Linked DNA regions of Homo sapiens: all the other regions are linked to region 4. Evidence: fine-mapped expression QTL. A gene starts in region 4. Each other region holds a variant in brackets. All regions are shown on one strand. Distances are between the middles of the regions.

Region 1 (4,121 bases), 200 kb after region 4:
TAACTATAGATCAATGGAATGGCATCGAGAGTCCAGAAATAAACCCTCATGCTTATGGTCAATTGGGTTTTGACAAGGATACCAAGACAATTAAAGAGGAAAAAAATACTCTCTCAGACAAATGGTTCTGGAGACAACTGAGATATCTATATACAAAAGGATGAAATTGGGTGGGTATGGTGGCTCATGCCTGTAATCCCAGCACTTTGGAAGGCTGGAGTGAGAGGATTGCTTGAGGCCAGAAGACAAGCCTGGGTAACATTGCAAGACCCCCATCTCTATAAAAAATCAGCTGGGCATGATGGCATGTGCCTGTAGTCCCCGCTATTCTGGAGGCTAAGGTGAGAGGATCGCTTGAGCCTAGGAGTTTAAGGATGCAGTGAGCTAAAGCTAAGATCGCACTCCAGCCTGGGTGATGGAGTGAGATCCTGTCTCTAAAAAGAATAAAATTGAGAATGTAATACAGAACACATTTCAGCCATTTTTTAATGCTCTGCAGTTACTCGAAAGGTTAAACATAGACTTACCATATAACTCAGCAATTCTGCTTCTAGATATATACCCAAGAGAGGTGAAGATGTACATCCACACTGAAATTGTACATGAATGTTAATGGTACATTACTCGTAGTCGCCAAAAAGTATAAACAAAGAAGTGTCCATTAATTGATGAATAAAGAAAATGTGGTATATTTTTGGCAATATACAGGAATGAAAGGAATATTATTCATTATTTAAAAAGAATGAAGTACTGATACGTGCTACAAAATGAATGAACCTTGAGAACATTATGCCAAGTGAAAGAAGCCAGACACGAAAGGCCACATATTGTCTGATCCTATTTATATAAAATGTCCAGAATAGGTAAATCCAGAGCACAAAGTGGGTTAAGGGTTGCCTAGGGCTGGAGGGTGTGGGAGTAAATGGGGATTAACTGCCAATGGTGCAGGGTTTCTTTCTGGGGTGATAAAAATGTTCTAAAATATGTTACAGTGATGGTTATACAACTTTGTGAATATATCATACTAAAAACCATAGAATTTTACACTAAAAATGGGTGAATTTGATCATATGTGAACTATATGATATACTCTTTAAAAAATATATTTAAATTCCTCTTATGTCTCCCTATTGATTAGAAGGAAAAGTTGCCACCTCTCTGACCCTTCTTCTGCAGCCACATCTCCCTCTGACCATAATCAAGAAGTACTCCTTGCATTTATGAACTCATGTCATTAGATCGGGCCCATCCAGATAAATCTGAGATAATCCTCACATCTTACAGGTCTTACCTATAATCATACCTGCAGAGTCCCTTATGGCATGGAAGGTGATGTATTCATAGGTTCTGGGAGATTAGGATGTTGACATTTTGAGGAACCATTATCCTGCCTATCATACCCTGTTTTATACTTCTTTCTATTGCATAAGAGTCTCACACATGTTGACAGATGGATGGAAAAAATATATTATGCAGGTACTAACAGCAGCAACAATGACAGCTAAAAACTGAGCTATCTATACATCAGATAAAGTAGATTTAAAGGAGGAAAGCACTATTAGAATTAAAGAGGGAGTTTTCAAAATAATTATCCAGTCATAGAAGAGATTTTTAACATACCTCTCTCAGTAACTGATAGAACAAGCAAACAAACAAAAATGTCCATAAAGATATAAAAGATTTGAACACCATAGTTAACAAACTTGACCTAAATGATATACAGAGCATTGAGCCCAACAACTTCAGACTACATGTTTTTTACATTGGTGCTTGGATAATTCATAGTCCGTATTAGAAATGAAAATGTTGAATATCTGTTATTCAAAAGGTTATAAAAAAAATAACAAATTAAGCCCAAAGAAAATAAAAGGAGGGAAATAATAAAGATAAAAGAAGTTAATGAAATAGAAAACAAACATACTACAGATAGGATCTACAAGGCCAAAAGTTTGTTGTTTGAAAAGACCAATAAAATCAGGCCAGGTGCGGTGACTCA[C/T]GCCTGTAATCCCAGCACTTTGGGAGGCCAAGGCGGGCGGATCATGAGGTCAGGAGTTCCAGACCAGCCTGGCCAACATGGTGAAACTCTGTCTCTACTAAAAATACAAAAAATTAGCTGGGCATGGTGGCATGCACCTGTAATCCCAGCTACTCAGGAGGCTGAGGCAGGAGAATTGCTTGAACTCCAGAGGCAGAGGTTGCAGTGAGCCAAGATCGCACCACTGCACTCCAGCCTGGGTGACAGAGCAAGACTCCATCTAAAAAAAAAAAAAAAAAAAGACTAATAAAATCAATTAAACACTAGCAAAACGTATCTTGGGAAAAAATGAAAAGCATGAATTGCCAATATCAGGAATAAACAGGCAATATTACTACAGATGCTACAAACATTTAAAAGATAATACAAAACAAAAGTTCACATGTACTACACAAATTCCTAATAAAATACAAGTTATCAAAACTGACAAAGGGAGAAATAGAAGATCTAAATGGTCCTATACCTGCTCAGGAAATTAAATCAATAATTTCAAACCTTCCCACAAAGAAAACTCTAGGCCTAGATGGCTTTACCAACAAACTCTTTTTTGTGGATGAATAGTATTCCATTGTGTCTATATATCACATTTTCTTTATCCATTCATCTATTGATGGACACTTAGGTTGATTCCATATCTTGACTATTATAAATAGTGTTGCAATAAACATGGAGGTGCAGGTAACCCTTTAGTATACCGATTTCCTTTCGTTTGGATAAATACCTAGTGGTGGGATTACTGCACTGTATGGTAGTTCTATTTTTAATTTTTTGAGGAACCTCCATACTGTCTTCCATAATACCTTTACTAATTTACACTCCCACCAACAGTACACACATACATTTTTAAAGCATAAAACAGTGCTATATATTATCCCTTGGCACATATGTATTCTGCATTTTAAAATGGCTGAAGGATGCACTGAAGTCACAATAGCAGCAGCCTCTAGAGGAGTAAATGAAAGGACAGGGTTTGAGGATAAGAACAAAGGAGACTTCAACTTCATTTTTATTGTCCAGTTTCTTTTATTTTTTTTAAAAAAAGGCAAACATGGTAAAATGTTAACATCTGTTCATTTTGGGTGATGGCTCATAGGGTGTTAGTCATATTATTCTTTGTAATTTTCCCTTTGTTTAATTTCTCAAAATGAAAACAATAAAGTCAAGATAATAGTATCTTTCATAGTTTAGTCTTAGGCTTATTTATTGTTTAGGTATTTTATGTTCCTGTTTGTCTTAAGAAAAAAATGTGTATAAATATAAGTATAGATGAGATAGTTAAATTTCCTTTTTTTGTTTGTGTTCACAAAACATGCTTGTTTTATTTAACATTCTTTGGTATCAAAATGTGGCCTTCATACAAACTTGTGAGGAGTAAACCATGAGGGTTCACAGTTTTACCACAGTCTGTATGTTAGCAACCATTTCCTGTGATAGACATGCTCATGCACCTCAAGTACTAGAAGTATCCATTTGTATTGGAGCCAAAATATCCGCAAGCAGAGAAACAAGAAGTCAAAAATATTTTCCTCTTTGGTGCTAAAGATTTGCTGCTGTGTGATTGTTGAGACTGAAGTTCTGAAAGCACCAGTGTTTGCCGGATCTGTCTCCAGCTTGTCTCTACAAGGTCATTTCCAAAAGACTGTCAAAAGAATGGCATGTCCCGCCTTTTCCACCACCGACACACCCTGCATGAAAACCCCAGGAGCACAGAAGTCCTGCTTGGGTGAGGATAAGGGCTCTCTCAAAGTCTATTATCGAAGGAAGGCAGACAGATGGGTTAACCACTCCAATGGAGTCTATACTTTTACAGACATATCACATATTATGACAATTAATTATTAGGCTGGTGGTTCAGCAACCTTTCGAAGTGATCCCAAGATGATTGCTGTGACCATATTTGAAAAGCTAACAGATAAATGTGGGCTTAAAACAGACTATATGTTATTCAGCTAGGCCTCAACCATAGGCATAAGTAGGAGTGAGGTGAGGGCCCTTGTGGACCCACCAGGGTCTTCCACAAGAGTAGAACTCTTGCCTTGTTCACTCCTTTCATAATCAGGCAAAGGAAGGAGTTATTCAAAAGGAG
Region 2 (4,121 bases), 79 kb after region 4:
CTCTGGAAAAAAAAATGTGTGAGCATAAGCTAATATCATAAATGAAATGATGAAGAAGAGGATAAGGGCACATGGTCCTAAGTGAGGAAACTTTGACCCAGAAACCTTTTGCAGTGACAGAAGTAGACCAAGAGTCCAAGTCTCCATGCTTCCAATTCAGTATTCCTTGCATGAAATGTCACTGCCTTTCGAGACTATACCGTTTACCTAATTGGTTGGATCTTTGTCAAGAGCTTGATCCAAGTGGAGTTTCTTTGTTTAATATATAAAGCATTTGCAAGTCCTTTCAAGGGCAGCACATAGTTTTATTTAACTCCCTCAAGCCCTCTCACCTCTGTCAAGTTGCACCAGGAAATTCAAGGTCTAGCCAAAGGCCCCCAATGAGTTAAAAACCCAACCATCCTGCAGAGTAGAAGAAATTAATGTCAAAACCAGATGTTCCTCTGTGGGCCTTGCTGGATTCATAAGTCAGGATAAAGCCAGCGTGGATGCATGCATGTCAAAAAAAAAAAAAAAAGTCTTGGCCAGTGTTGTAGAGAAATGAAGTGTTGTTTCATCTGCAGTTCCTCTCCAGTCCTTGCTGGTTGGGAGCACTGGCTCCCGGGAGACTGGTGGCCCTGACACTCAAGCCATTAACTGAGAATGCTCTCTAATCCCTTGTTTTCATTGTTGGTGTTCCGGCCAGGCTGCCCGCACAGAGCCTGCCCGTTTTCATTGGCTGCAGGAATTGTTATTGGAGTGGCTGACAGCTGTCTGCCAGGCTGCCTGAAACTGCCTTCCTGTGCTCTCCGCTGCTGCTCCACTTCACAGCGCTATTGTTCCTGTTGAGCCTTTTCTTAAAATCTTTCCCAGCTGTATCCTGATATGGTAAACCACTTAAATTAGCTCCAGATTGTTCTGTTTATTTTGTGTTAGATAAGCGACAAAATACAGTCCCAGCGGCAGACCAAGAGGAGAGTGGAAGTCGGGGGAGGGGGGTCAGAGGACACAAGGTCTTTTACAACACAAGGTAGAGTTCCCAGACAAAACTGTGAGAGGCACAAGTATGATACAGTCACTGGCCTGACCATTTATACGTGACTCTGATGGGCCAGGTGAGCAATAACGTTGCATCTGCGCACACCTCATTCCAGAAAAGAAAATCAAGACCCCAGCATACAGCTACACTGGAAGGGAGCTAAATTTCTATTATTGGAAATAGACACAGTATTGCTGTCAGGTTGGTTGCCATGCCAGCTGTCCAGGTACCATGCTTGATGCCCTGATTACCACAAGACTTCCCCCTTCCCCCTGCTTTTAATTATCCTTCTGTAGTGCAGTGTATGGTAACTGATGGGCTCAAAACTGGCCCACATTTGCCAGTCTCCCTATATGCTCAGCACTTGAAAATGAGTCTTCTCTGCTGTAATTTAAAGCTAGAAATCCAAAGACATTGAGTCACCAGCATAGGTATTTTCCACACAGCTGCAAGTGAAACTTCACAATGGACTTGGCCGCTATTTGCTTACACTTGCCATCTGTGCAACCGCTCTACCCGTGGCCTCCCCCGCTTTGTGGTTGTCTTCTAACAGGAGCAGTCCACGCAAAGCCTTCCTGAATACTTAACAAAATTTTAAAAAATATAATAGATACTGTCCTAGCATGAAGGCGCTGCCTTTGTGATTTTTAGGAATTAACCCAAATAAAATATGAAAAATAAACTACCGAGTGCTTTAACGCAGCTAAAGCATGCAAGCAAAACCAGCAACCAGCTGAGTTCCGACAGTTACTGAGAGTTTTGTATGTGGTAATTCAAGACTCCCCAGGAAAGATCTCATGACTCACTCCAGTGTGGCTGGGCCTCCAGTCCTCACTCTGAACCAAAGTCCTGGAAACACTTTTCCACCACGTTGAGAGAAGGCGAGGGAAGAACAGGGTCAGGAGTGATCAAATGCCCTTAGAAACAGTCTCTTTCTTTCCTTTTGGGAAAACAAACTCACTGTGTAATAAAAAGGTACAAAGCCAACTTTGGAATAATAATCACCCCGCCCCATCCCCTTGCCCTCTGATGGAAAGTGCCTTGTCTTCTCCATCAAGGTCTAGCTGGGGGCTTGAACGGCCTCCGTGTCACCTCTAATTCCCCAGTTTTTACCTTGTTTCCTTTCTCTGTATCTTTTTTGCCCTTAGTTGTGTACAGTCTTGTATTTTTTCACATAGGCTATGCTTTCTGTGGATGTTGCCTCCCTCGAAAGCAGGGACCATGTGT[T/C]GAACCCCTGTTGCCTTTTCCCAGAGTAGCGGGCACCTAGCAGGTGCTTAATTAAGGTGTGTCAAATAATTGTTTCCTTTTTTATTCTTACCTGACATGAAGTATGCTCCTGTATCAATTCAGATGAAGGTTTAAAAAAAATCAAGACAAGTATCACAAGTTCCCTTAGCCCATTCTCATTAAAATCATGGGCACCACCTTCCCGTGCTCACCAGGATGGAGGAAGTCAACAAATATCTTTCTCATTGATTAAAAACTCTGGATAATACTGAAAGCAACTATCTGAGGCTTCTTAAAAGTACTTAGGTTGGTGCTAAAGTAATTGAGGTTTTCGAAAACTGCAATTACTTTTGCACCAACCTAATATAACAGCAGGGATGATAAGAATAGGGACAGAGAAGAAAACAAAATCAGGTGAATGGAGAATGGGGAATAAAGTCAAAGCTTCATGAATCCCTTGTGTGGTGAGTTTTGGAGGTTTATTTTCTCTCCTCTATCTCTTGGCTTTGACCTAAGAGCCAATGGAATTATGGAACTATGCAGCAGGCACTGGCAGCAACATCTCCAAGAGAAACCTCCTACTTCTAACCAGAGGTCTAGGAAAGTGGGCTCTTGCTCAAGAATATGGGGAATTCCTATTTTATTTGTTTTTTCTTTTCTTTTAATTTTTTGAGATTGAGTCTCACGCTGTTGCCCAGGCTGGAGTACAGTGGTGTAACCATAGCTCACTGCAGCCTCTACCTCCTGGGCTCAAGTGATCCTCCTGCCTTAGCTTCCCAAATAGCTGGGACTGCAGTCATGCACCACTACACTTGGCTAATTTTTTTTTTTTTTAATTTTTTATGTTTGGTTAGCGATTGGATCACACTATGTTGCCTGGCTGGTGTGAGCCACAGTGTCCAGACTGTTTTTTCTTTTTCTTTCCCTTTTCTTTCTTAACTCTACCCCAAGACAGGCCCCAGTTGAAGATCTGCATTGGTGTTGTGGTGGGGTGCAGGCACCTAAAATCTCAAAAGAAGACCCACATTTCTGACCGGAGTGTGAGATAATCTCTGTTATTTTCCTCTTTTTTTTTTTTTTTTTTTTTTTTTTTGCTACTTTGCTCCCAAAGGCAACCTCAGTTATGCAGAAGTGCATGACAGAATGGGGAACTACAACCTAACAGAAACCTGTTTTTCTGATCAGAGAAACCACATAAAGGGGCCCCTGGAGCGGAGGTTGGGGGTGGATCTGAAGGATCTAAAGGGAGAGAAGAACTGGAGAAGAGGATCCCCTGATTCTGTGTATGAGCTAAGCCCCAGGCTCACCTCCAAGTGCATATATGCCACACAGGCCCAAAGGAGCAAAGCAGAGGCTTCGAAAACTCAACTGCCATGTGAACCACTGCCCAGGTCCTAGATTAACCCCTGAGTGGCACATGCGCTGGGCAAACCCAAACCTCATAGCAAAGGCTTTAAAAACTAAACTGACATTAGAGCCACTGTCCACAGAAGGTGAGACAAAACTTGTGGTCTGAGTCTCACTAGGTTGATTCTCTGCTTAACCAAACAAACATCAACACCCTCGAGAGGATTTTAACTAGACCTAGAGGCTCAGAACATGGTATTCAAAATGTCTAATAGACAGTCCAAAATTACTCATTATACAAAAAAAAAAAAACAGGAAAATACGAGCAGTACTCAAGGGAAAAGACTAAAAATAGATTATTTCAGCTGTGATGAGCTCATTTGAGATGATCATCCAAATATTGGTGTTGTCAGACAAAAACTTTAATGCAGCTATTGTAACCATTCTCCATGAGACAAAGTTGAACACTCTTGAAATGAATGGAAAAATAGCAGTGAAATAGAAACTAAAGCCAAACAAATGAACAAAC
Region 3 (4,121 bases), 100 kb after region 4:
CACCTAAATCTGTGGATACTTTGGGAGTTTGTATGATTCTATAACCCCAGTATGTAAGAAATGGCACTTTTTCTTTTCTACTGCCCACTTTAATGTCTTAACTCTGAGCCCTCATTTGGCTGGGAAGATACTTAACTTCAGTTACTCTAGTAGCTTCTACCCTGTCTTTGCCAAGATCTCCCATTCCTTCTGTTGTCTTGGAAGAGAAACCTTCTCTTCCCTGGTATTGTGCATAATGAAACTTTATTTCACCATCCTGTCAAGAGGGGAAAAATTTTTTTCACAATTATATTTTTCCATCTAATGTTCTGTTTACAGAGACATTTATCAACCACTGGAGAAATACTCAGCTTTCACACTTAAGAAAGAGATATTATTGCCAGAGTGTAGAGTGTTAATTCATTTTCCAGTTTAAATTGTAGAATTTTTTTTCCAAGAGGAAAAGAAAAAGGTCAGTTTTTGTCTCCACCTATAAGGAGCATTAAGTCACTAAGTGAAATTCCCTTAGTTTTCTCTTCATGCATGGAGAGGGTCCCAGCTTCCATGGACTCATTCTCCCATGCTATACAAAGTTACACAGGTGTATTTAAAGTTTAGTGGATTGTTTAGCTTAGGGATCTCCAAAGCGCATATCATCGAGGGACTGCCTTGTTTTCCAGTGGCTCTCTCCATGGAGGATTTAAAGGTAGATATGTATCACACTGGGCCTTACTTATGTCTGAATAATGAAAGGCTATGTCAATGGGAAAAGGGAATTTAGGGTGGGAAAAGGCAAGGAATTTTCTTTTTTTTTATTATTTAAGCACCATTTAGTAACAATGTACATACAGTCTCTGTTCTTAAATGTATTTAAGAGTTAACATCATCCTCATGCCAAGACCTTACTGTGTTTCAGATAACGGAGGGCAGACTTTGGCAGGGGGTAATAACTGGCCCCTTCGAGGAAGAAAATGGAGCCTGTGGGAAGGAGGCGTCCGAGGGGTGGGCTTTGTGGCAAGCCCCTTGCTGAAGCAGAAGGGCGTGAAGAACCGGGAGCTCATCCACATCTCTGACTGGCTGCCAACACTCGTGAAGCTGGCCAGGGGACACACCAATGGCACAAAGCCTCTGGATGGCTTCGACGTGTGGAAAACCATCAGGTACCTACACCCTGCCCTTTTTCCTCCCAGGACAGAAACTCCAAGAGCAGCCTGACTCCATTGAGCAAGAATGATAGCTTTTGTGTTAAAATGATAGTTCAGCTTACAAATACATGATTTTTAAGAAAAATAAGTGCCTTTAGAGACATTGTAAGTATATATATTTTTAAATTATAAATTTGAGATTGTGGGCCTGTGTTTTACGTGAAGAACAAGATTGTCCTCAGCCCATCGCCCTCCATGGAAGGTCTTTGAAGCTGCGACGTTTTGCTTAGAAGTAGGCTAGGGTATTGTTAGCTTCCTGCAGGGGGTCAGGGAACTAGTCCTGTTGTCTGCTGGAAGAATGGAGGACAAAACAGCAGGGAAAAAGCTGGAATAGGAACTAGGGATATGTTTATTTCCATTTATTAGCAAGTATCTAACAAGCACCTACTATGTGCCATACCTTCTTCTAGATGCTGAGAAATTAGGAATGAACAAGTCAGTCAAGATCCTGCCTCTCAGGAAGCTGTATTCTAGTTGGGGGAGAAAGATGTTGGACAAATGAACACACAGATGAGCAAGATGACTGCCAGTTGTGATAAGTGCCAGGAAGGCAAAAAAGTATGTTGTGATAGATAGAGCTGGCTGATGTGAAGAAGATACATCAGGGAACAGGACCCAGACTCAG[A/G]TTTGGAAATCGTGATGGTCTTTTTCCTGTTTAACCCCCACAGTGTAGAGCAATAGCCCCCAAGGTTGGGAGGCACATGCCTTAGAGGTTGCAAGATGTTCCCTTGGAGTACAGGAAGAAAATTTCAATCTTGTATTTGTATTAATATCTAATTTCATCTCATCCTTTTTAAAGTATATGTTTTTTAAGACACATAATATATTAGTAGACTTGTACATAAATCTAATTTATAAATAAATATGCATATATTGGAGGTATTATTTTTACGGGTGGAATGACCTAGTGCAATGGTTTTCAACCTCTGTTTGGTGTTACAGCTCTGTTTGGGGTTAGCAGCTGATTGACTGTCCCTTAGTGGCCAGGGGGAGAGGACTTCCTCAGGCCATCTCTTCATCCCACTCCAGGTATCCCAGCTCAAGAATAGCAGGTTTCAGGTCTCTAGTTATAGGAAATACACAATGGAGTATTTAGGAGCAAAAAGCCATGATATATTTAACATACCCTCAAATGGTTCAGAAAAAAATTGTGTGTGTGTGTGTGTGTGTATGTATGTACATGTGCACAGAGAGAATTCAAATGGACTGCAAAATTAAATAAAAGAATATAGGTAAGGTGCATAAGTATTCTTTTGTTATGTCTTATTTTTGCAACTTTTTGTAAATTTGAAATTATTTCCAAATAAAAGTGTTTTAAAAATAGGAAGGTCTGACAGCACTGCACCCACATTTCCAGAAGGCCAACAACTGACTAGAATCAAATAGCTGCTGCCTTCTGTAGATGAAGTATCCACCCTTCAAATCTTCAATCTCTATTGTTCCCAAGTTCCAATACAGATCCACTGCACTCATTTAGGTTACCTACTTAGTCTCTGTAGGCATTTAAGTTTATAGTCCCTGCTGAACATAATCATAGTATTCAACACTCTGGAAATACCATACTTTGACCAATTTCCAGTTGCAAAATATATAGATTATTTCTTATCTTTTTATATTATCAATTTTTCTGTAATTAATAATTAATGTTAAAAAATAGTAGGGTTCAGCAGCCTAAGATTAGTTTTTACAAAGGAAGTTTGATAGCTATTCAAGTTTAAACATTAAAGTTTAAAGTCCTGTGAGTTCAGGAATGGATAGAAGAAGTGTTCAGCCAGGCCGCTCAACCTCTCACAACGTGGAGTCTATGGGTTCCTCTCTAATGGGCCTCACCCAGAAGGGTGAGACTAGGGAAGGTCCTCATCTCTTACAAACCCAAGGGAAAATCTGATTTAATTAGCTTTATAACCTTCTTTCAATTATTTTGCAACTCAAAGTTCCATGTTTTCCTTCGAGAATTTATTAAATTTTAAAGATCACTTTTCAAGCAGCAACATTTATAGTATTGGGTAGCCATTTCTTCACCATTTCTAAACATTATTTTGGTTCTTATGAGTCATATTATTTTCATATTATTTTAAAATCCTCACTAGCCTCAAATTGTTCCCTCTTATTCTTGCCTGAAAAGTTGATTTGTCAGTTTGGAGACAGTGATCAGTTTATGATTTGTCATTTCAAGAACACTCTACAGCATCCAAGTCACAGAAAAAGTAATGCCACTGAACAGCTAAGCTGAGAAGCAAAGCAGTAAAACCTTTTCTCTCACCAGAAATTTTGAAGCTTTGTGCTCATTATGTGCTCATTCATATGCGATGACTTTTTTTTCTTTTTCTTTGAAACATTTCTGCCTCTATCCATGATCTAAACTTGATATGTTAAATTTAAATTTAATTTCCCCAAGCGTGAGTACTATATGTCATTGTAGATAATTTGCAAACTACAAAAAATAAAAATAATTGGCTGGGCGTGGTGGCTCATGCCTGTAATCCCAGCACTTTGGGAGACTGAGGTGGGTGGACCACCTGAGGTCAGGAGTTCAAGACCAGCCTGGCCAACATGGTGAAACCCCGTCTCTACTAAAAATATAAAAACTAGCCGGGTGTGGTGGTGGGCACCTGTAATTCCAGCTACTCAGGAGGCTGAGGCAGGAGAATTGCTTGAACCCAGGAGATGGAGGTTGCAGTGAGCCAACACGGTGCCACTGCACTCCAGCCTCGGCGACAGAGTAAGACTCCGTCTCAAAAAAAAAAAAAAAAAAAAAAAAAATCACTCAAATCTTACCTAGAAACAACTACTATAAACATTTTGTCATATTTCCTTAGAATTTTTCTTTTCAGCATTTTTTTACTACATCTTTTTTCCTTATTTAACAGACCATTGGTTTTTGATTGTGTCATCCAAGAAACTTACTGCAAACACTATTTCAGTCACTGCACATTC
Region 4 (4,121 bases):
AAAAGAATCAGTGTTGCTTGGAGAAATGTCTGATTCCAGGATTGGGAGAGGAAAAGTGCAAGTTGAGGCTAGAAAATCTCATTGTATCAAAATGTGTGGACATGCTCAAAGATTCAAGAGGACATGCCAAAAGGATATGAGCCAGATTGTAGGGGCTCCCACTGGCCAAAACAGAGAAAATTTGAGCATTGAAATAACTATAGCAAAGGATTATAGCATATTGATTAAAACAAGAATTCATGAATTCATAGTGAAATAAATAAATGAGAAGGGAAAGTTCTTCCTTACAGTAGAAAGGCAACTCATAAATATAGAGGAAATGAAGGAATTAGAAAATCAGCATTTGGTAGCCATCCTAATTATAACTAATTGAAGCAAGAAGCAAGATACTAAAACTGGTAAGCAAAATAATGTGTGTGAGGCATAATAGGATATTTACATATTCTCAAATTATCTCTCCATAAAATATTTATTAATTACAAGAAGAAAATATTAACCTTACAATGAGGAAATGTTTACCTTAACAAAGTTATCCCATAAGAAAGCAATTCAGCATCATGTGCCTCTTAATAGGAAGCACCGAGAAACATACCACATCACTTTTTGTGGTATTCCTGCACAAATCCATAACCTCTATCTAATTGTGAAGAAACATCAAACTCCAATTGAGAGATTTTATAAAATAACTAGCTTGTACTGCACATTATGTGTTCAATACATAGATGGAAAATAGAATTAACTCTTCAATTTGCACATTTCCAGAGCACTATTAACATATGCTTTTATTTTAAAAACATAGGACGTAAGAATCTGTGCAAGTTTAGCTAGTTTCAGGGGAAGTTGGTTAAAGGAGGAATTGTTCCTGCAGATTAGCACCCATCAATTATTTCTTCTTAATTTTTATCAAGGAGAATAGGAAGGATTACGGGGGAGAAAGACACAAAACCACAGCGGAAATTCTCAGTCCTTCAAGGTCTTCTACAGGGTGTTTAAATGAAAAGTTCAACCCTTGACATAATGAGTCAAACAGTTCTCTCAAAAGTTATTCTTTGAATTTAATGCTAAAATTTTCACTTTTTTCTGCTAAATTTCATTGATTCCACTAGAGATTAAAGTGCATACAACATAAACTAATCTACTTCATGCAAAGAAAAAAAGTGTATGTAAGAGGCAAACATTTCATGTGTTAAAGGATTCTTGGGGAAAAAAAGGTAAAATCATGACCCTCATACAAATATAAAAGTGAATACATGATTTTATTTAACTCATTAATAAGGAAATTGGTAAGGTGTTAAAACCAATTCAAAGGACAATCCAAAGAACAGATCAGGAATACTAAAATAAATATGCAAGCGGAGGTGAAACTGTTTTCCTTGGTAGTGGTGGAGGGGAAGGATTGCTACTCCGCTGGATAAAGTTCATTTGTGTATATATAAATAAGAATTATTTTCCATTGTTATTTATCTATAACTTATAAAGTTGTAAACAACTTCCACGGAATCAGACTCAACCTGGAAGGGTATGGTCTCTAGGCAATGCAAAAATTTTCCCCTACACCTGTTAACAACTATAATATCTCCAGACAGAGTAGACAGAAAGTCTGGATGGCAACGGGAATCTACTGGTCATACGGCTAACTTCCTAATTCAATAAGCACGTGACTAAAGGATTTTTTCCTTCCACTCAGATATTTCAGGCTAACTAGATACTGTGTGCTTCTTAGTGTCACTGCTTAGTGGGGGAGCCAGCTCTGAGTGGGGTCATATCCGGACAAGCGAATGAGCTATTTATTCAATGACCACGCAACACTCCAAATCCTCCCAGGGCAACTTGAAAGTAACCGCACCTTCCAAAGGGCACCGTGCAATCAGACTGTGTGTTTGGCCTCCTGTTTGCTAGTGGGGAGGAAGCGGCTTCATGGGTGTACACTACGCATAAATGAATGTGAAAGGCTATTTAGACCTCTGCCTTTTCACCGTCCTCCCACCTGCCACAGGCTGGGCTCTTGTGCTAGAAATGACTTGCTAGCTAGACATCATGGTTCAGGATCTGAGTCAGAGGTTTAACCATTTATAAGCTTTTTTCTTATGAAAAATTGGCACTAATTATAATGTCTAACTGTCAGAGTTGTTGCAGGCTTTACAGGAGACGCGGGCTGTGAAGATGCTTTGTAAATTGTGAAGCGTTATTAAAGAACACATCTTTTTTTTTTAGGAAACCACAGTGCAAATTTAATTGCCGGGGAAGATAACGGGCCTTGGTGCCCTCCAAGCGTCAGCTGAGTTTCCAAGAAGCCGGGCAGCGGGCGCCCGCGGGTTCGTCTCTGGCTCCTCCTCCGCCACAGCAGCCGGGGGCCCGGGTCGGAGGCGGCGGGGGCCGAGCGCCCGGCCTCGCAAGCCCACGGCCCGCTGGGGGTGCCGTCCCGCGCCGGGGCGGAGCAGGCCCCGGCAGCCCAGTTCCTCATTCTATCAGCGGTACAAGGGGCTGGTGGCGCCACAGGCGCTGGGACCGCGGGCGGACAAGGATGGGTCCGCGCGGCGCGGCGAGCTTGCCCCGAGGCCCCGGACCTCGGCGGCTGCTCCTCCCCGTCGTCCTCCCGCTGCTGCTGCTGCTGTTGTTGGCGCCGCCGGGCTCGGGCGCCGGGGCCAGCCGGCCGCCCCACCTGGTCTTCTTGCTGGCAGACGACCTAGGCTGGAACGACGTCGGCTTCCACGGCTCCCGCATCCGCACGCCGCACCTGGACGCGCTGGCGGCCGGCGGGGTGCTCCTGGACAACTACTACACGCAGCCGCTGTGCACGCCGTCGCGGAGCCAGCTGCTCACTGGCCGCTACCAGGTACGCGGCGCCCCCGCCGCCCGCGCCGCCCCCGCCCCGCCTTTCGCCGGCGCCCTGCCGCTCCTACCCGGCCCTTGAGGCCGCGGGCGCTGGCAGGCGGGGCTCGGACCGCCGACCCAGTTATGGGTCCCGGCGGCTTCTCGCCCCAACCTCGCTCTTCCAGGCCGGCAGCCCGCCGCGGCCTCTGCGCATGCCCGGCTCTGGCGCCCCGCGGACCCGCGCCCCGGCCGCCGGGTTGGGCGGGTGGCTTTGTCTTTCGTTTTCTGAAGCTCCGGGCGAAGGGGTTTATGGGAATGCCGGGTGCTGGGCGCCGCGGCCGGCAGGCGGAGCGGTCCTGAGGTGGGAGGCTGGGGAGGGCGTGGGCTGGGAGCAAAGACGAGGGGAGAGGTAAAATGAAGGGGTGCTCGCCGTGGGTGCGACCCTGGCCCGTGGGAACCCAGCGGTGATAGGTTAGGAGTGTCCCACCAAAGATTATTTTTTTCCAGGTTCTCAACACCCCTGGAATGAAACCTGATGCTAGGTTGATTTTTCTTAGGCTGCTGACATTCCTTTCACATGTAACCTTGTATTGAACTCTTCTGAGCATCTTCATTATCGCTTTAAAAGCTTCCCTTTAGGAACGGCTCCACAGTTAACGAAGGAAATATAAATGTAGAGCGTGCATAGATGTTAGATGGCTAAGAATATCAAGAACATTTGCATAGCACTTTGTTGTTTTTAAAGTGAATTATTGAAACAGTGCATGAGGTAGTTGTTTTTACCCCGTTTTACAGACGAGGCAGGAAGCCTGTAAAGGCTCGTTGGCATAAGAATCGCACAGCTAGAAAGTGGTCAAGGCAGTGTCCGTTGTGCTTTTCCTGCATCCACTGGTCGTCCCGGGCTTATGAAATTGGCCTTTTTTCCCCTCAATCTGAATACGATTGTCATATTTCTAAGACCCTGAAGTTATTATGACCATATTAAATACAGTAAATGGGAACTGTTGGATACCACCTGCATGCCTTCACAGAGTACATATGCTGTTTACTCAACAAAAATATTTTGAGCTTACTGTGCTACTGACAGGGGATATATATTTGAATGTTGCCCTCCCAAGTGTGTGTTCGCATAACCTGTCAGATCAACCCTAGCCTCACGTGGTCCTAAGATCAAGAGAAGGGAGGGCTTACTTGTGATAAAGATATGCGCAGTGGTCTGAAGGCTTTTATAAAGAGGAAAGATTGGGTGTTGCTAAGGGTGAGAAATAGCTGTAGCCAAGGTTAGAAATGGGAGTAAAGGATGCTTC
Region 5 (4,121 bases), 110 kb after region 4:
AACTCCACCTTGTCAAATACCAAAACTGCAATCCTGTCTTGTTTTTGTTTGCCTTTACCTGGTTCACTTTGCTATAATAATACTCACCAGTAGACAATAAACTAACGTCTACAGCATCTTGAGCAGAAAGGATTTAACAAGAATTCTGTATATTATTAATATTATTTTTGTTTGAATGTAATATGTTGAATGTATTTATGTTTGAATGTTAGAATATTAATATTATTTATGTTTGAATGTAATTATTTATGTTTGAGTTCTTTCATTTGAAAGAATGTATTCTATGGGGAATGGTGCAAATGGTGATTTTTTTCTTTGAACCATGTATTTAGAAGTGCATTGTTAAGTTTCCAAATTTTGGGTTTTTCCCTAGTTAAATTATTGATTTCTAGTTTATTTCAGTTGTGGTTTTGAGGACCACAAATAATTGAAATGCTTTGTATTATTTCAATTATTATTATTGTTTTTTAACAGAGACAAGGTCTCAATTTGTCACCCAAGCTAGAGTGCAGTGGTGCAATCATAGCTCACTGCAACTTCTGCCTCCTGGGCTCAAGCAATCCTTCCACCCCAGCCTCCCAAGTAGCTGGCACTACAGGCATGTACTGCTATAACCAGCTAATTTTTAAATTTTTATTTTGTAGAGGCAGGGTCTCACTATGTTGCCTCAGCTGGTCTCAAACTCCTGGGCTCAAGCAATCCTCCTGCCTCAGCCTCCCAAAGCGCTGGGATTACAGGTGTGAGCCATCACTCCTGGGCTAATTGTTTTAAATTTGAGACTTGGCCTAGTAGATGGTCTTTCTTGTTGTCCACATCAGGTGTAATTGAAAAGAATGCGTATTCTGTAGTTGTTAAGTATAGTGTTAGGTTTTTCTTTATGATCCAGTCTGTAATGTTTTAGTAGATGAATTTATACATATTTATAAATATTTTTATTTCTATTCTTAGTTTTTTCATTGTTTTGTTACATTTACTTTTTATCTTTGACCTTTTATTTAGTAGTTCTTTAATATTTAGAAAAATTTATATTTTATCCTACTGTTTATCATTATACAAATATCTTTATATAATTCCTTAGTCCCTTTTTTCTTACTTAGGTTCCACTATTTGGTTTGTCACATTTAAATGACATCTTCAGCTTCCACTTATTACCCATAAGGAAATCAAGCAACTTATGTAACTTTTCATTCTCTTCCAGTTTTGTGATTTAAGTAGTGTTATTCCTACTGTATCAGAGCATGTAATATGTAATACTGTTCTCTCTTTATCCACAATTTTGTTTTAGTTTTAGATCTTCAATAATATATTCAATACTGACCACCCATCCACTTCTAAAGTGTTCACAATTATCTCTTAGTTGGAGGAATTCATCCTTGAATAGATTTCTCAGGATTCTTTGAATTCTTGCATGTTTATTAAAACATTTTCTACAACCTTGATAATTGAACACCAGCTCAACCGGTTAAAATAAAACCCTTGTCCCACACTTTCTTGCTTTGAGTTTCTTGAAAATGTTACCCTAATCTTTGCTTGTTTTCTATGTTACTGTTGATAAGTCTAATATCAGCCTGATTTTATTCCTTTGCAAGTGACTTTGTGTTTTTTGTCTGGGCACCCAGAAGATTTTTTATTATCACTATTATTATAGTTATGATTTAAAATCTAAGAATTTTTCCAGATGTGTCACAAAGGTGACCCTACTGTGTCAGTTTTCTCAGATAAAAGTGAGTTATTTCACTTTGTATATTCAGATCTTCTTTTATTTCAGAGTTTTTAAAAATTACAGTTTTAGGCCGGG[T/C]GCGGTGGCTCACGCCTGTAATCCCAGCACTTTGGGAGGCCGAGGCGGGCGGATCACAAGGTCAGGAGATCGAGACCATCCCGGCTAAAACGGTGAAACCCCGTCTCTACTAAAAATACAAAAAATTAGCCGGGCGTAGTGGCGGGCGCCTGTAGTCCCAGCTCCTTGGGAGGCTGAGGCAGGAGAATGGCGTGAACCCGGGAGGCGGAGCTTGCAGTGAGCCGAGATCCCGCCACTGCACTCCAGCCTGGGCGACAGAGCGAGACTCCGTCTCAAAAAAAAAAAAAAATTACAGTTTTAAATATTATATTCTACTGTTTTGTTTTTCTTCTTCAGGAACTCCTAGTTATAGGTATTATTGAATCTTCTTTACATAAATTTGGTTTCTGTCAATTTCTCTCGTATCCTCTTTGCCTCTTTATTTTTTCTTTATTTTGAATTAATTATCCTTTCTCTTTTAATTTCTATTCTCTACACGCTTTCACATAGAGAATGTCATGTATAATGTTTTGTCATTTCTAAGATTTTGTCCTTTTTTTCCCAGTTCCCTTCCTTTAAAAAGTGTGATGTCTGAGTTTTACAATTTCTGAATCATGGTTGTTGTTTCTTTAATATTGGCAGTTGATGATTTCATTATATTTAATTCATGTTGAAATATCCTGTAATGGTTTTCTTCTGCCTTATGACTGTTTTTCCATAGTAGGAGAATGTTTTCATTTGCCAAATTTTTGAATTCTCATTTTCTATTTTTTTTAACTCGTATGGTAACTTTGCATAGATGCTGAGTTCTTTTTGGTTTTGTTCACGTTTATGTATGTTGGCGTTTCCTGGATCTAAGATAGCAGGCAATCCGTAGGAGTGGGATTTGGACACTTTCATTTACTTCAGGTGCTTCAAGAGCGCTGTGTATTGCTATAGTGAAGTGCAGTTTCTTTGCTAAATGTAGCCCCTTTCTTTTTTTTTTTTTTTTTAATTATACTTTAAGTTTTAGGGTACATGTGCACATTGTGCAGGTTAGTTACATATGTATACATGTGCCATGCTGGTACGCTGCACCCACTAACTCGTCATCTAGCATTAGGTATATCTCCCAATGCTATCCCTCCCCCCTCCCCCTCCCCACCACAGTCCCCAGGGTGTGATATTCCCCTTCCTGTGTCCATGTGATCTCATTGTTCAATTCCCACCTATGAGTGAGAATATGCGGTGTTTGGTTTTTTGTTCTTGCGATAGTTTACTGAGAATGATGGTTTCCAATTTCATCCATGTCCCTACAAAGGACATGAACTCATCATTTTTTATGGCTGCATAGTATTCCATGGTGTATATGTGCCACATTTTCTTAATCCAGTCTATCATTGTTGGACATTTGGGTTGGTTCCAAGTCTTTGCTATTGTGAATAATGCCACAATAAACATACGTGTGCATGTGTCTTTATAGCAGCATGATTTATAGTCATTTGGGTATATGCCCAGTAATGGGATGGCTGGGTCAAATGGTATTTCTAGTTCTGGATCCCTGAGGAATCGCCACACTGACTTCCACAATGGTTGAACTAGTTTACAGTCCCACCAACAGTGTAAAAGTGTTCCTGTTTCTCCACATCCTCTCCAGCACCTGTTGTTTCCTGACTTTTTAATGATTACCGTTCTAACTGGTGTGAGATGATATCTCATAGTGGTTTTGATTTGCATTTCTCTGATGGCCAGTGATGGTGAGCATTTTTTCATGTGTTTTTTGGCTGCATAAATGTCTTCTTTTGAGAAGTGTCTGTTCATGTCCTTCGCCCGCTTTTTGATGGGGTTGTTTGTTTTTTTCTTGTAATTTGTTTGAGTTCATTGTAGATTCTGGATATTAGCCCTTTGTCAGATGAGTAGGTTGCGAAAATTTTCTCCCATTTTGTAGGTTGCCTGTTCACTCTGATGGTAGTTTCCTTTGCTGTGCAGAAGCTCTTTAGTTTAATTAGATCCCATTTGTCAATTTTGGCTTTTGTTGCCATTGCTTTTGGTGTTTTGGACATGAAGTCCTTGCCCACGCCTATGTCCTGAATGGTAATGCCTAGGTTTTCTTCTAGGGTTTTTATGGTTTTAGGTCTAACGTTTAAATCTTTAATCCATCTTGAATTGATTTTTGTATAAGGTGTAAGGAAGGGATCCAGTTTCAGCTTTCTACATATGGCTAGCCAGTTTTCCCAGCACCATTTATTAAATAGGGAATCCTTTCCCCATAGCTTGTTTTTCTCAGGTTTGTCAAAGATCAGATAGTTGTAGGTAAGCGGCGTTATTTCTGAGGGCTCTGTTCTGTTCCATTGATCTATATCTC

Evidence for each region. PIP is the estimated chance that this variant, and not a neighbour inherited with it, causes the effect.
Region 1: its variant is fine-mapped to the expression of ARSB in whole blood (TOPMed, PIP above 0.99).
Region 2: its variant is fine-mapped to the expression of ARSB in fibroblasts (GTEx, PIP above 0.99).
Region 3: its variant is fine-mapped to the expression of ARSB in whole blood (TOPMed, PIP above 0.99). The same link has a PIP of 0.9 or more in blood mononuclear cells, iPS cells, monocytes and testis.
Region 5: its variant is fine-mapped to the expression of ARSB in fibroblasts (GTEx, PIP above 0.99).

Annotation. Positions count from the first base shown.
Region 1 is chr5:78,782,954-78,787,074 of GRCh38, reverse strand. The region is part of intron 6 of ARSB (arylsulfatase B); the gene reads left to right. Among named protein-coding and RNA genes, the nearest start is that of LHFPL2, 140 kb to the right of the region's middle. The variant C/T (reference allele first, on the strand shown) is at 1,997.
Region 2 is chr5:78,905,128-78,909,248 of GRCh38, reverse strand. All of the region lies in intron 4 of ARSB (arylsulfatase B), which reads left to right. Among named protein-coding and RNA genes, the nearest start is that of ARSB, 78 kb to the left of the region's middle. The variant T/C (reference allele first, on the strand shown) is at 2,246.
Region 3 is chr5:78,882,602-78,886,722 of GRCh38, reverse strand. ARSB (arylsulfatase B) reads left to right here. Exons shown (of 8, transcript NM_000046.5): 5 at 896-1,139. Among named protein-coding and RNA genes, the nearest start is that of ARSB, 100 kb to the left of the region's middle. The variant A/G (reference allele first, on the strand shown) is at 1,810.
Region 4 is chr5:78,983,652-78,987,772 of GRCh38, reverse strand. ARSB (arylsulfatase B) reads left to right here and starts at 2,463. Exons shown (of 8, transcript NM_000046.5): 1 at 2,463-2,836. The coding sequence starts at 2,525. RefSeq lists a silencer at 2,281-3,140.
Region 5 is chr5:78,871,465-78,875,585 of GRCh38, reverse strand. The region is part of intron 5 of ARSB (arylsulfatase B); the gene reads left to right. Among named protein-coding and RNA genes, the nearest start is that of ARSB, 110 kb to the left of the region's middle. The variant T/C (reference allele first, on the strand shown) is at 1,799.